3 linked regions of the Homo sapiens genome follow. The protein of the gene in region 3 interacts with the protein of the main gene of each other region in a pairwise test. Each region holds a gene or a part of one and is shown on either strand. Other genes may lie near its edges.

Evidence for each region.
Region 1: the proteins of SULT1E1 (region 3) and IGSF21 interact in a two-hybrid assay, tested with the Homo sapiens proteins (one large-scale study listed by BioGRID and IntAct).
Region 2: the proteins of SULT1E1 (region 3) and ENOX1 interact in a two-hybrid assay, tested with the Homo sapiens proteins (one large-scale study listed by BioGRID and IntAct).

Annotation. Positions count from the first base shown.
Region 1 is NC_000001.11:18,106,517-18,110,649, reverse strand, and holds the start of IGSF21 (immunoglobulin superfamily member 21 precursor), read right to left. Parts: upstream 2,853-4,133; 5' UTR 2,522-2,852; coding exon 2,452-2,521; intron 1-2,451. UniProt on the Homo sapiens protein: Involved in synaptic inhibition in the brain. Selectively regulates inhibitory presynaptic differentiation through interacting with presynaptic NRXN2.
Region 2 is NC_000013.11:43,349,935-43,353,584, forward strand, and holds part of ENOX1 (ecto-NOX disulfide-thiol exchanger 1), read right to left. Parts: intron 1-3,650. UniProt on the Homo sapiens protein: Probably acts as a terminal oxidase of plasma electron transport from cytosolic NAD(P)H via hydroquinones to acceptors at the cell surface.
Region 3 is NC_000004.12:69,850,004-69,853,653, forward strand, and holds part of SULT1E1 (sulfotransferase 1E1), read right to left. Parts: intron 1-3,650. UniProt on the Homo sapiens protein: Sulfotransferase that utilizes 3'-phospho-5'-adenylyl sulfate (PAPS) as sulfonate donor to catalyze the sulfate conjugation of estradiol and estrone. Is a key enzyme in estrogen homeostasis, the sulfation of estrogens leads to their inactivation.

The sequences.
Region 1 (4,133 bases), on a different chromosome or scaffold from region 3:
CAGTGCGAGGGGCAGCGGCCTCCTTCCTCCTGCCAGACCCGACTCTCTAGCGTCGGGCACCCTTGCTCTGCCACCCAAAGGGGCAGAACCGGCGAGGGCGTTCTGGCCGTGCCCCTCCCCGAGCAGTGACCGCCAGTACGTTCGTGAAGGCCGGCGCGGGTTGCTCCTCTCTGCGCCCTCGGAGGCAGGTGGCCCTGCAAAGCCGCTGCCAGGTGCACCTCTCTCGGCCACCTCCAGGAAGGGCGCCCTCCTCCGGCACAGCCCGCCTCTTGCGTCTCTCACGGACTCTTCTCGCACCCCGCCCCCCATTCTGGGCACAGACTTGGAAGGAGGAAGGAGGGACCCCACCCTCGTGTGCTCTCCTCTGCGGAGAAGAGAGGGCTCCCGGCTGCCTCGGATCTCCCTCTGCGCCCCAGACGCGGAAAGTTTCCCATTCGCGATCCGCGTCTGCGCTCTTCCTTCATCCTGAGCAGCGGAGCTCCGAGGCCGCGCTGGCTGCACCGGCCCAGATGCGCTCACCCTCAGGCACGCCAACCCCCGCCTCCCGCAGCCCGCAGAGGCGGGCAAAGGGATTTGAGGCGTCAGGATGCCGGGTCAGCTCTCTGCAGCCGGGCAGCCAGAAGAACCCTGCTCCCGGGTTCCAGGGAGAGCTCGCAGGGTGGGGTCCTGACGGAGCCAGGGTTTCCCAACAAGCCCTTCTCATCAGTCCTCTCCTTCACCCTGCCGCGTCTCTCTGTTCTGCGCATTCCCAGGGAAAGGGGTGCTTACCTTAGGTCCCCAGCCTCCAACCCCCGCCCCCTGCAATGTCCAGGTGAGGGCTCCAGTGCCTTTCAACAAACCCCAGTGCCCTCTCGGCGGCGCTGGAACGAGGACCTCCCCCATGTAACCTTTCCCTCTAGAGCCCTCCTCCCAAAGTTGAGGGGGGACATTTTGATCCACTTAGGAAAGTCTCTTGTTCCAAGGGTAGGGGAACAAAGTACAGGGTTTGCATTCCTTCTGGGTTACACCAACCCCTCCCCCCTCGCTGTCAGGACCACCTTCCGGGCTCAAATTCTGCAGCTTCTCCCATCAGCAGACCCAGCACTCCCCAAGGACTTCGGGGTAGAAGGAGTTGGGGTTATTTTTAAGGGGGCACCCCTTCCTGGCAGGCACTCTCAGAGCCTAGGTAGGCACCTCCTGCTGGGACAAGGCTATGGCATAGGACAGAGGTGATGCCCACCTCTATCATCCAGTGGGGCTCGGGGTCGAGACCTTATTGATCATAAAGACGACTTTTTGGCACCTCGCGTCCCGCTCCCCTCCGAGGCGGAGCCAGGCTCTGACTCCAGCCAGGCTGAGGTTGGCACCAGGCTCCGAGGAGGATCCCGGACGCGGAGCCTGTAGTCTCGGTGCCTGCGGCTCTTCGCTGGTCCCGCCTCCCTCCCTCCTGGCTTTTAGCCTCACGTTGGCTCTCTGCTCACTGCGCGAAAGGGTTCAGCTCCATTTAAGACCCACTACGCGGCGGCACTGGGTGGGAGGCCGGCCGCGGACCCTGGGGCTGCGGAGCCACCTCTCACTGGCTCCGGAGAACCCGCTCGGCTTCAACCTCCTTCTAGCTGTCTTAGCCTAACCCGGGAGCAAGTCCACACGGCGGGACACACACACACACACACACACACACACACTGAGCTGCTCACAACTCCCCAGCCCCGGAAGCGTCCATACCTCCCTGCACACGATAACCACACGCTCCATGGCACGCATACACACACTCCCAGCCCCATGAAGCCCACGACTCCCAGGCACCTGCACCCCCACCCATCCCACATAAGCAGACTCTTGTCCAGTGTCACAGTCCCATCTCCTGTGCACACAGAAATAGTAATCCGCTGTCGTACACCCCTAGAGACCTGCACACTCGGGACACACGTGAAACGCCAAACCTCACATACCCACCCCCTAACACCTCACACCCACAGTGACACAAGCTCACACACTTCACACCCTCACAGGGAAGGTGGCACATGTTCACACCCTCCCCCCAACATTCGCTCACACTCTCACACACACACCTTCTCCATGTAACTGACACAGACACTCTAACACCCATCCAGACCCTCGCTCACTCACACGCAGACCCCACACCATCACACACACACGCACACACACACTTGCATCTCTAAATACACTCCCGCACCTTCTGCCCACACAGCTCCTTCCCGGACACCCTCACCCAGACACACAACAAAGACACACAATTTACACACACACACACACCCTGGCACAAATCCATGAGCGCTCTCCAAGAGGCGTCCTCCCTCCCTCATCGAGCCAACCAGCTCCACAGACCCCGGGCAGGACCGGTGCTCGTAGCCCGAGCCTCTCGGAGCGACCCCGGCCAGCGCCCTCCCCCGGCACCCCGTCCCCGCGCACGTTCACCGCTCGGCTCCCGCCAGGCGCCCGCGCACTCACCGCGCGCCAGGTCCAGGATCGCGGCGAGCAGCAGGCAGACGCAGCGGCGGAGGCTCGGGGCGGTTCGCATGGTGCCCGGGAGCTGGCGGCGGTGGCGGGGCGGCGGGGGTGGAGGCGGTGGCGGCGGGTCCCCTCGCCATGGGCTCAGACGCGCTCCTGCCTCCGGCCACTGGCCGAGGCGGTGGCGGGCAGCGCGGAGAGCCGCGGGGGCGCCCCCATGCCGCCGCGGCCAGGCAGCCCGGGCGCCCGGCTCGACTCGGCTCCGGCTCTGCGAGGCGCAGCGACCCTCGCGCTCTGGGCGTCCTCGGGGCTCGCCGCGGTTCTCGGCTCCCTAGCTGCGCGCGGTGCCCACCGCGGCCCAGAGTCCGATCGGCTGCAGCGCCGGAGTTTGGAGCCGAATCGCGCTCTCTGCCTCGCGCTCGCCTCTCCCGGCGGCGCGAGCACCCCCCTCCTCTCGCCCTCCCTCCGTCCCTCCCCCTCTCCCCGCCCCCCCGCCCTCCTTGCCCTCCCCTCGCCGCGCTCTCCGCGTATTATACAGACTTTTCTTTAATCCTTTCTGGGCTGTTCGGCTCTCGTCCGCTAAGCCGATTTATTGCAGGGAGAAGGAGAGCTCACCCCCTCCTAACCTCCCCTCTCCCCTCACTCAGGTCCCCCCTCACTCAAAACTGGCTTGCTGCCTCCAGCTTCTTAACCCTTACCCAGGTGACCCAACACCCCGCCCTGGAAGCTATGCTCCATCGGATCCGCCTTTACCTAGCCCCTCCTATCCCCGGGATTACCATCGCCCTCCCCGCTACTCAGCCTGATGAAAGGAGGCAGCCTCCCTCCCGAGAGGGAAAGATGCCATCCTGGGAGCAGGGCAGGCAGGGTGTGGCTCTGGAGTTCTGACCTTGCCAACGATGAATGCCCTCATTGGGCAAGATTAAGGGGTTTCCATGTTCTGAAACTTCCCCAATTACGGCTGCTCCTTCCCCCAGGGACCCACGGAAATGGGGTGTGTTCTGTCTTTTTCCCATGTGCTAGGATCCAGCCAGGAAGGGTGAGGAACTGATTGTTTCCTCCTGGCAGAGACCAAGTTTCCACCTTTTTGCCAGACCTGACAGCTTTTCTTCCCAGGTCCGAGAAGAACAGGTTTGGGACTTGTATGTTACCATTACTCTCCCACCAACACACACGCGAGCACACACACACACACACACACACACACACACACACCATTGAGCCTCAGCCCTGGCGGTGGACTTTGAGGCCTCCTGCGAGGATGAAGGGGAGGGGTACTCTAGCCCTTGGAGTGGACTGGGGATGTGGTTAGATGAGGAAGTTCAGGAGATAGAATTTCACCATTGGTAGGGACCCAGAAGATTGGCAAAGCCCAGAAAAACCAGCACGACCAGGGGCAAAACCTGCTCAGAACTCAGGTGGGTCCCTTTACCCAGGCCTTCTATGGAGAATCTCCAGCTTCCCTAGCTCTGGCAGGTTGCTGAGTCAGGCTGTTGCATCGTTTACCTACATGGGCAATGGGTCTATAGCCAGTTCCATCTCCAGCAGCCCTCTGAGAGGAGTGTAGGGAGTGGGGTGGGCAATGGGTGGTTGCTGGGCTGCCTCTGGGTGAGCTTTGTGCAGAGATGTCCATGAAAGTGAACTGCTCCCTCCTCCTGCCCTCTGGAACCTCACCCCATCGC
Region 2 (3,650 bases), on a different chromosome or scaffold from region 3:
GGTTCAAGACTTGGAAATGGGCATAGAGATTACTATAGACCCTTTCTATGGAATGCTGGGCATGAATTACCTAATTCTACAGGGGGTGGGAAACTTTAATTCTTTGGCTAATCTCTGACTAGGCTATTTTACAACTTTGTAGGAGTAGAACATAAATTGTGGCAAACTGATAACAATACAAATAATTCGTCTCTGTAACAATGCAAATTAATTTTTGTTCAGTAGAAAATGTAAATCTTTATAAAGCGAATTCTCCTTCGAAACAGTTTTAACATTTTCTTGGTCTCCTTATTAATTAGTGAGTTAAATAAAATCATTGGCACATGTTCATTTTATATTTGTAAGACAGTCATGATTTCACCGCCACAGTATTCTTTAACAAAAGACAGGGCCCATGCTACAGTCATATCTGAAAGTCCAGGGCATGGCACAAAGCGATGGGTACCTGGTGAATTTTAATTAAACTGATACATAGATAATGATGGGGAAAATAAACCAAATTGGTAAGTGTTTTTTGTTTTTGTTTTTGAGATGGAGTTTTGCTCTTGTTGCCCAGGCTGGAGTGCAATGGCATGATCTCGGCTCACTGCAACCTCCACCTCCTGGGTTCAAGTGATTCTCCTGCCTCAGCCTCCTGAGTAGCTGGGATTACGGGCATGCGCCACCAGGCCCGGCTAATTTTGTATTTTTAGTAGAGATGGGGTTTCTCCATGTTGGTCAGGCTGGTCTCGAACTCCTGACCTCAGGTGATCCACCCATCTCGGCCTCCCAAAGGGCTAGGATTACAGGCGTGAGCCACTACGCCCGGCTGGTGTTTTTTTCCTCCCGCTTTGTGTGCACAGGGAGAAGCAGCCCTGAATTTCAGAACAATAGATAGGATAAGAGCCAAGCCGGGAGCACTGAATACGAAACTTAGGTGGGCTATAGTATCCTTATTTACAGCTGGGTCTATAAAGGAACAATGAGGAGACAGGGATTTTATGTTTGAACGGAACGAGGGAAAACAAGGAAGGCATTCTAAAATGCTTTTCTTTCCAAAGAAATGGAGGGACACACACATGTGTACACACATACACACACAAGGAAAGGTATGTCTGTAGTTATCACTGATTTCTGGCTCCAAAGATAGCTGGAAATTGCTCACAGTGTACAGTCACAGAGTCATCTAAGCAGATTTGGAATTTCAGTATGGTCAAAGCATTGCTGCTATCACAATCCCCAAATTTCTGTACATGTCCCTAAAGAAGTCTCCTTTTCCTGGCTGCTCAATTAACCCCGCATCAACTAACCAGATCACAGACAGCATAAAAGGCTAAACAAAGAGTTAATGTTCCCTTCTACCCCCAAAACACACATGCAATCTCCTTAACTATTTAGTAGCTGTAAAAATGAGAAAATTAAGGGGGCAATATGAAAATGCACTGATTATTCCTGCTTTAGGGTCGAGCAAAATATTTCTTTTTATTTTATTTATTTATTTTATTTATTTATTTATTTATTTTTTATTATACTTTAAGTTTTAGGGTACATGTGCACATTGTGCAGGTTAGTTACATATGTATACATGTGCCATGCTGGTGCGCTGCACCCACTAACTCGTCATCTAGCCTTAGGTATATCTCCCAATGCTATCCCTCCCCCCTCCCCCCACCCCACCACAGTCCCCAGAGTGTGATATTCCCCTTCATGTGTCCATGTGATCTCATTGTTCAATTCCCACCTATGAGTGAGAATATGCGGTGTTTGCTTTTTTGTTCTTGCGATAGTTTACTGAGAATGATGATTTCCAATTTCATCCATGTCCCTACAAAGGACATGAACTCATCATTTTTTATGGCTGCATAGTATTCCATGGTGTATATGTGCCACATTTTCTTAATCCAGTCTATCATTGTTGGACATTTGGGTTGGTTCCAAGTCTTTGCTATTGTGAATAATGCCAAGCAAAATATTTCTAAATAAAACGGCCTATCTTGCCTCTATGAAGGTCAATAACACATAAGGAAATAATTTGCAAACAGGCTCCTATGTTTCATATTTCCCTTACTCTATGAAGGAAGCCTGGCTTTTAGCTAATGGGACATCCACTTGGCTCATAACATTATTGATTTTTACTTTCATGGAACCATAAATACTGACAACCATCTCAGCAAAATGCTGGTACCACATCTGCCCCTTCCTCCCTCTGGCAGGCTGACATGAGGCTATTCTATATGCAAATAAGAGTCCAGTTCTCTGGAAATTATGAATGTTGATCCCAGGAGGATGGTATTCTTGTTGACACATCAGGAAATCCCAAAGGCCCTGCCTGCAAGGCTTTGTCAGGACGTCACCTAATTCAGAGAGAAACTCTTCATTTCATCACAAAATGAAAGATTATGTGAAGCTTTCTAAGGGGGTACAAAGTACGTAAAAACTTTTAAATGCTCTTGCCAAGAGAAATCCCGGTGAATTAGAATATAATCCTTCCTCACTGTCTAATCAATCTCTTCCTCCCACAGTCCAAACACAGGGTTCCTCCAGGGGTGGATGGTCTGTGTTAGACACACTGAAATTCATTATCTCATCTGCCTGGTTGCCACTGTTTCCAATAAAGTGTAATTATGGTGTTATTGAGCTCCTTCCCACTTTCTCAAAGCCATGCTATAAACTTTGGGTTTCTGAGCAGTTACTTCCCAGTCGGTCTTCATTAAGTTGAATTGTCTCGGAACAATGTCTGTTTAACCAGCAGGATGCTTACTAATTTTCTTTTTTAGAATTTGTATTAATGTAACAGGCACTGGGTGACTCCATGTCTCAGGCACTACACAAATACAACACAGTGTTACCTCTGGTTTCAGAAGGTCAAGTAGCCAGTGAATGGGATAACCTGGTCCCAGAAGATCCTCCCTCTCTCACTCCAGCACTGCCCATCCGGGCTGGCTATCTCCCCTGTGACAGCACTGTGCACTTCCCACATATAACAGGAGGATTATTATATTTATTATAATAGTGCACTATTATAAGTGGCAAACGCAAGGTGATTTGTTATTGCCTGTGTCACTCAAGACACCTAAACTCTTTGAGGCAGGGGCTTGTTCACCGTTGTCCTTTCCACCACTGGCTAGGACAGCGCCAGTCATATGGTAAAATGCTGATTAACGAATACTTCTTGAGTGATTGGAAGGATGGCTGAGCACACATCACATCATTTCCATGTACATCTGGTCATGCCCAGTAGAACCACTGGACAGAAATTCAACGTGCTCATAGATCCAAATAGCAGAAGAAGAGAGAAAATAATTATTTTTACTGAGCACCTACTATGTGCACAGTTTTAGCATTGGACAGGACATGGAGAGGGCCTTGTGGGTCATAAGAAAGACTTGGTTTGTACAGATTTTGCTAAATAAAGCTGATTTTCAAAGAGAAAATTGTAAGAATAAACAAGTATGATATAAAATAGAGGAAAAGTATCTGTAATAAATCTAAGTAAGATTTCTCAGGGGAGGAAAAAAATCAAATCCAATTAGGTATTTTCAGATTGCATTTCCATTTCCTTTCTGACACAGATTTCTTTACCTTAGGTATTGACTGTATTTTATGTCCCCACATCAATGAAATCATCTTCAGGGAAACAGTGTCCTCAGCTCCTCCTGTCTGGCTTTGCA
Region 3 (3,650 bases):
ACCATCACTCCACATAATTAAAAAAAAATAGTTCTGAGGTCTCTTCACTTTCAATATTACAGGAAAAAAACATTTTATGAGGTGAAAATATAACCTCTGCCAACACCTTGTTAGTTTCCATTTTACATGCAGAAGAAATACCAATGAATTAGTTTTCAGAAAACTGTGGTTTTAGTTTCTAGTTTTGGCAGTAAGAAAAAACAGTACAGTAATTTTTGACCTAAATGTTTTCTTTACTAAACAAATGATTTGTGTTAGATCATCTGTGGCCTACTCTAGGTCTGATACTCAATGTTACACGAAAAGATCTGTGAAAGTAAAGTCCAGTATCCTCATGGGCTTCTACTTAGGCCCTCAGGCACCTAAGCAATGTCATGAAAGGATGCTGTTGAGTATCCACTGTTTATGGAATACCACTAAACTAAAGCTACTAAATTGTCTTACTGATGACATTTTCTAACAATGTTGTAGAAATCTAGCTTATTCTTAGATGTATAGCTCTCGTTTTATAGCCCTCTTGTAAAAGCCTCTAAAAACTGCAGAATAAAAGTGAACATTTTTCATATAAAATCCATCATTAGCCATATTGAACTTTTCCAATCTTACTTATAACCCTTCCTAGTTCTTTTCATCTATTAGCTGAATGGAACCCTTTGCCACTGTATGCATTAATTTACTTCAGAATTTTCACCCCTTGTCTTCTTTGTTCTAGTCTGTCTTTCTTGAATGTTTTCTGTTTCTCAAAATGCTATCTGTATTTTATAGCTTGCCTTCTGGTCCTCCATGAGGCTTTTTATTTTCCCAGATAGAAAAAAAGAGTGATCTCTCTTTCCCTAAACTTCTATTAGTTTATATTCTTTATTTTGGCAGATCTTATTCAATATCCCAAACTTTTTACTGTACATGCTCATTTTTTTGTCCTCAAGGGAAATCTAGCTCTTTCCTGAAGATATGACTTGCACTGCATCTCTCTTGAGTCAAAGTTACCAGTTTCCCAATGATTCACTTGTGATTGTAATCTGTCTTAAAAATTTTGCACTTTAAAGACCCCTATTCTTTTTGTTGCCATTGCTTTTGGTGTTTTAGACATGAAGTCCTTGCAAAGCCAAAATTGACAAATGGGATCTAATTAAACTAAAGAGCTTCTGCACAGCAAAAGAAACTACCATCAGAGTGAAAAGGCAACCTACAGAATGGGAGAAAATTTTTGCAATCTACTTATCTGACAAAGGTCTAATATCCAGAATATACAAAAAACTCAAACAAATTTACAAGAAAAAAACAAACAACCCCATCAAAAATGGGTGAAGGATATGAACAGACACTTCTCAAGAGAAGACATTTATGCAGCCAACAGACACATGAAAAAATGCTCAGCATCACTGGCCATCAGAGAAATGCAAATCAAAACCATAATGAGATACCGTCTCACACCAGTTAGAATGGTGATCATTAAAAAGTCAGGAAACAACAGGTGCTGGAGAGGATGTGGAGAAATAGGAACACTTTTACACTGTTGATGGGACTGTAAACTAGTTCAACCATTGTGGAAGTCAGTATGGCGATCCCTCAGGGATCTAGAACTAGAAATACCATTTGACCCAGCCATCCCATTACTGGGTATATACCCAAAGGATTATAAATCATGCTACTATAAAGACACATGAACACGTATGTTTATTGTGGCACTATTCACAATAGCAAAGACTTGGAACCAACCCAAATATCCAACAATGATAGACTGGATTAAGAAAATGTGGCACATATACAGCATAGAATACTATGCAGCCATAAAAAAGAATGAGTTCATGTCCTTTGTAGGGACATGGATGAAACTGGAAACCATCATTCTCAGCAAACTATCTCAAGAACAAAAAACCAAACACCTCATGTTCTCACTCATAGGTGGGAAGTGAACAATGAGAACACCTGGACACAAGAAGGGGAACATCACACACTGGGGCCTGTTGTGGGGTGGGGAGAGCGGGGAGGGACAGCATTAGAAGATATACCTAATGTAAATGACAAGTTAATGGGTGCAGGATACCAACATGGCACATGTATACATATGTAACAAACCTGCACATTGTGCACATGTACCCTAAAACTTGAAGTATAATTAAAAAAAGACCCCTATTCTATTCCTATGATACTTAACTAACTAATCTATACCTCTCCTATCTGATGCTATTTCTAAGCTTGTGGCCATTCCCTTGCTTTAACTGAAGATTTGAACACCTGCCTCATGGTTTCACTCTCCATTCAAATTCTTTTATCATTCTGTGTAATTTTATTGTTGGTGTGTGTGATCTACTTGATTCTCTAAGTTCATGTAGTCATTGATCATTACTTCTATGTTACTTCAGACTTTTGTAACCACTTTTGTAACCAAATACTGAATCTTGCCTTCACCATAAAGGTTTCACTTTTGAAGAATTATCCTGAGCCATAATCTTTTCTTCCAAAAAATCCCGCTTCTTCCTTCTTCCCCATCAGTTATTCCACATACCTCTCCTACAATCAAACCAATGGCTCAAATCCGTTGGCCTCAGTTATTTATATTATCTACTAGCCTGTTACTTTTTGTCACTTTCTTCTCTTTATCACTTACAGTTTCTGCTCCATCATTCCAAATATCCTGTATCTATTTGCATAAAGGATATTTACAAATATCCTGTATCTATTTGTTTTATTTTGTTGTTGTTGTTTCTCTGTAAATAACCCTGGAAATACTCCAAACATGAATCCCTCCAACTATCTCCTAGTCTTTGATAAACTCTGAAAAATAAGCAGCTTTGTGAAGGCTTGGACTATTATAAATGTCTGGTACCTGTTTCCATTTGAGAAGTAAGGAGTTAACAGCAAGTCCACCACTATCCTCCAAAGGAAAAAAGTGTCTTGGTCAAATCTCTTAAAAAATAATAATGACACATCTCCTGGAAAGTACATAACTGGTCTTTACTAATGAGACAGCCCTTATGCATGGAATGACTTCAGCAGGACGTATATCGTCTATCTAGGATTGCTAATGATAAAAACAAACTAACCTGGCAATCTTTGATTTTTGTCTGTAGATCTCCAGGAAATGTCAAATATGCCATGTAACGGATTACAAAATGGAAATATTTAATGACTGGGATATATCCCCTTTTTGTTAGTGATGACTGCAAATAATACTATAAGATCTTGAAGAACAGCACTGGTGAGAGAAAGGTCTTGAAGAACAGAATTGGTGGTCTCAGACTTCATGTTTTCTCTGTATTTTGAGGTCATGTATAATATTATTTTTAAAGAGCAAAACTGACAGTGTAAACCGTCAGCTTAATATGTCTATTACTCCTCATTACCATTAAAATGTCAGAGTCCAAACATCTTAACTTGACTTTCAATATTTCTTATAATCCGTTCCTAGCTAATCTGCCTTTACTTATTTAGCCAATATGTACACTTAATCTTCCAGCCAAGCTGAACTGATTTTAGATGCCCCCTCAGATCATCTCTGAATTGTCATCACACTGATACATCATTCAAATATCAGCTGAGATGTTGCTCCTGGATGCCTTCCCTACCCCCAGTGTCTGAGTTTGAATTCTCTCTCTTACTTGACCTATGATACTTTTTGTCTTGTCTGTTAACCTGTCCTTTTTCTG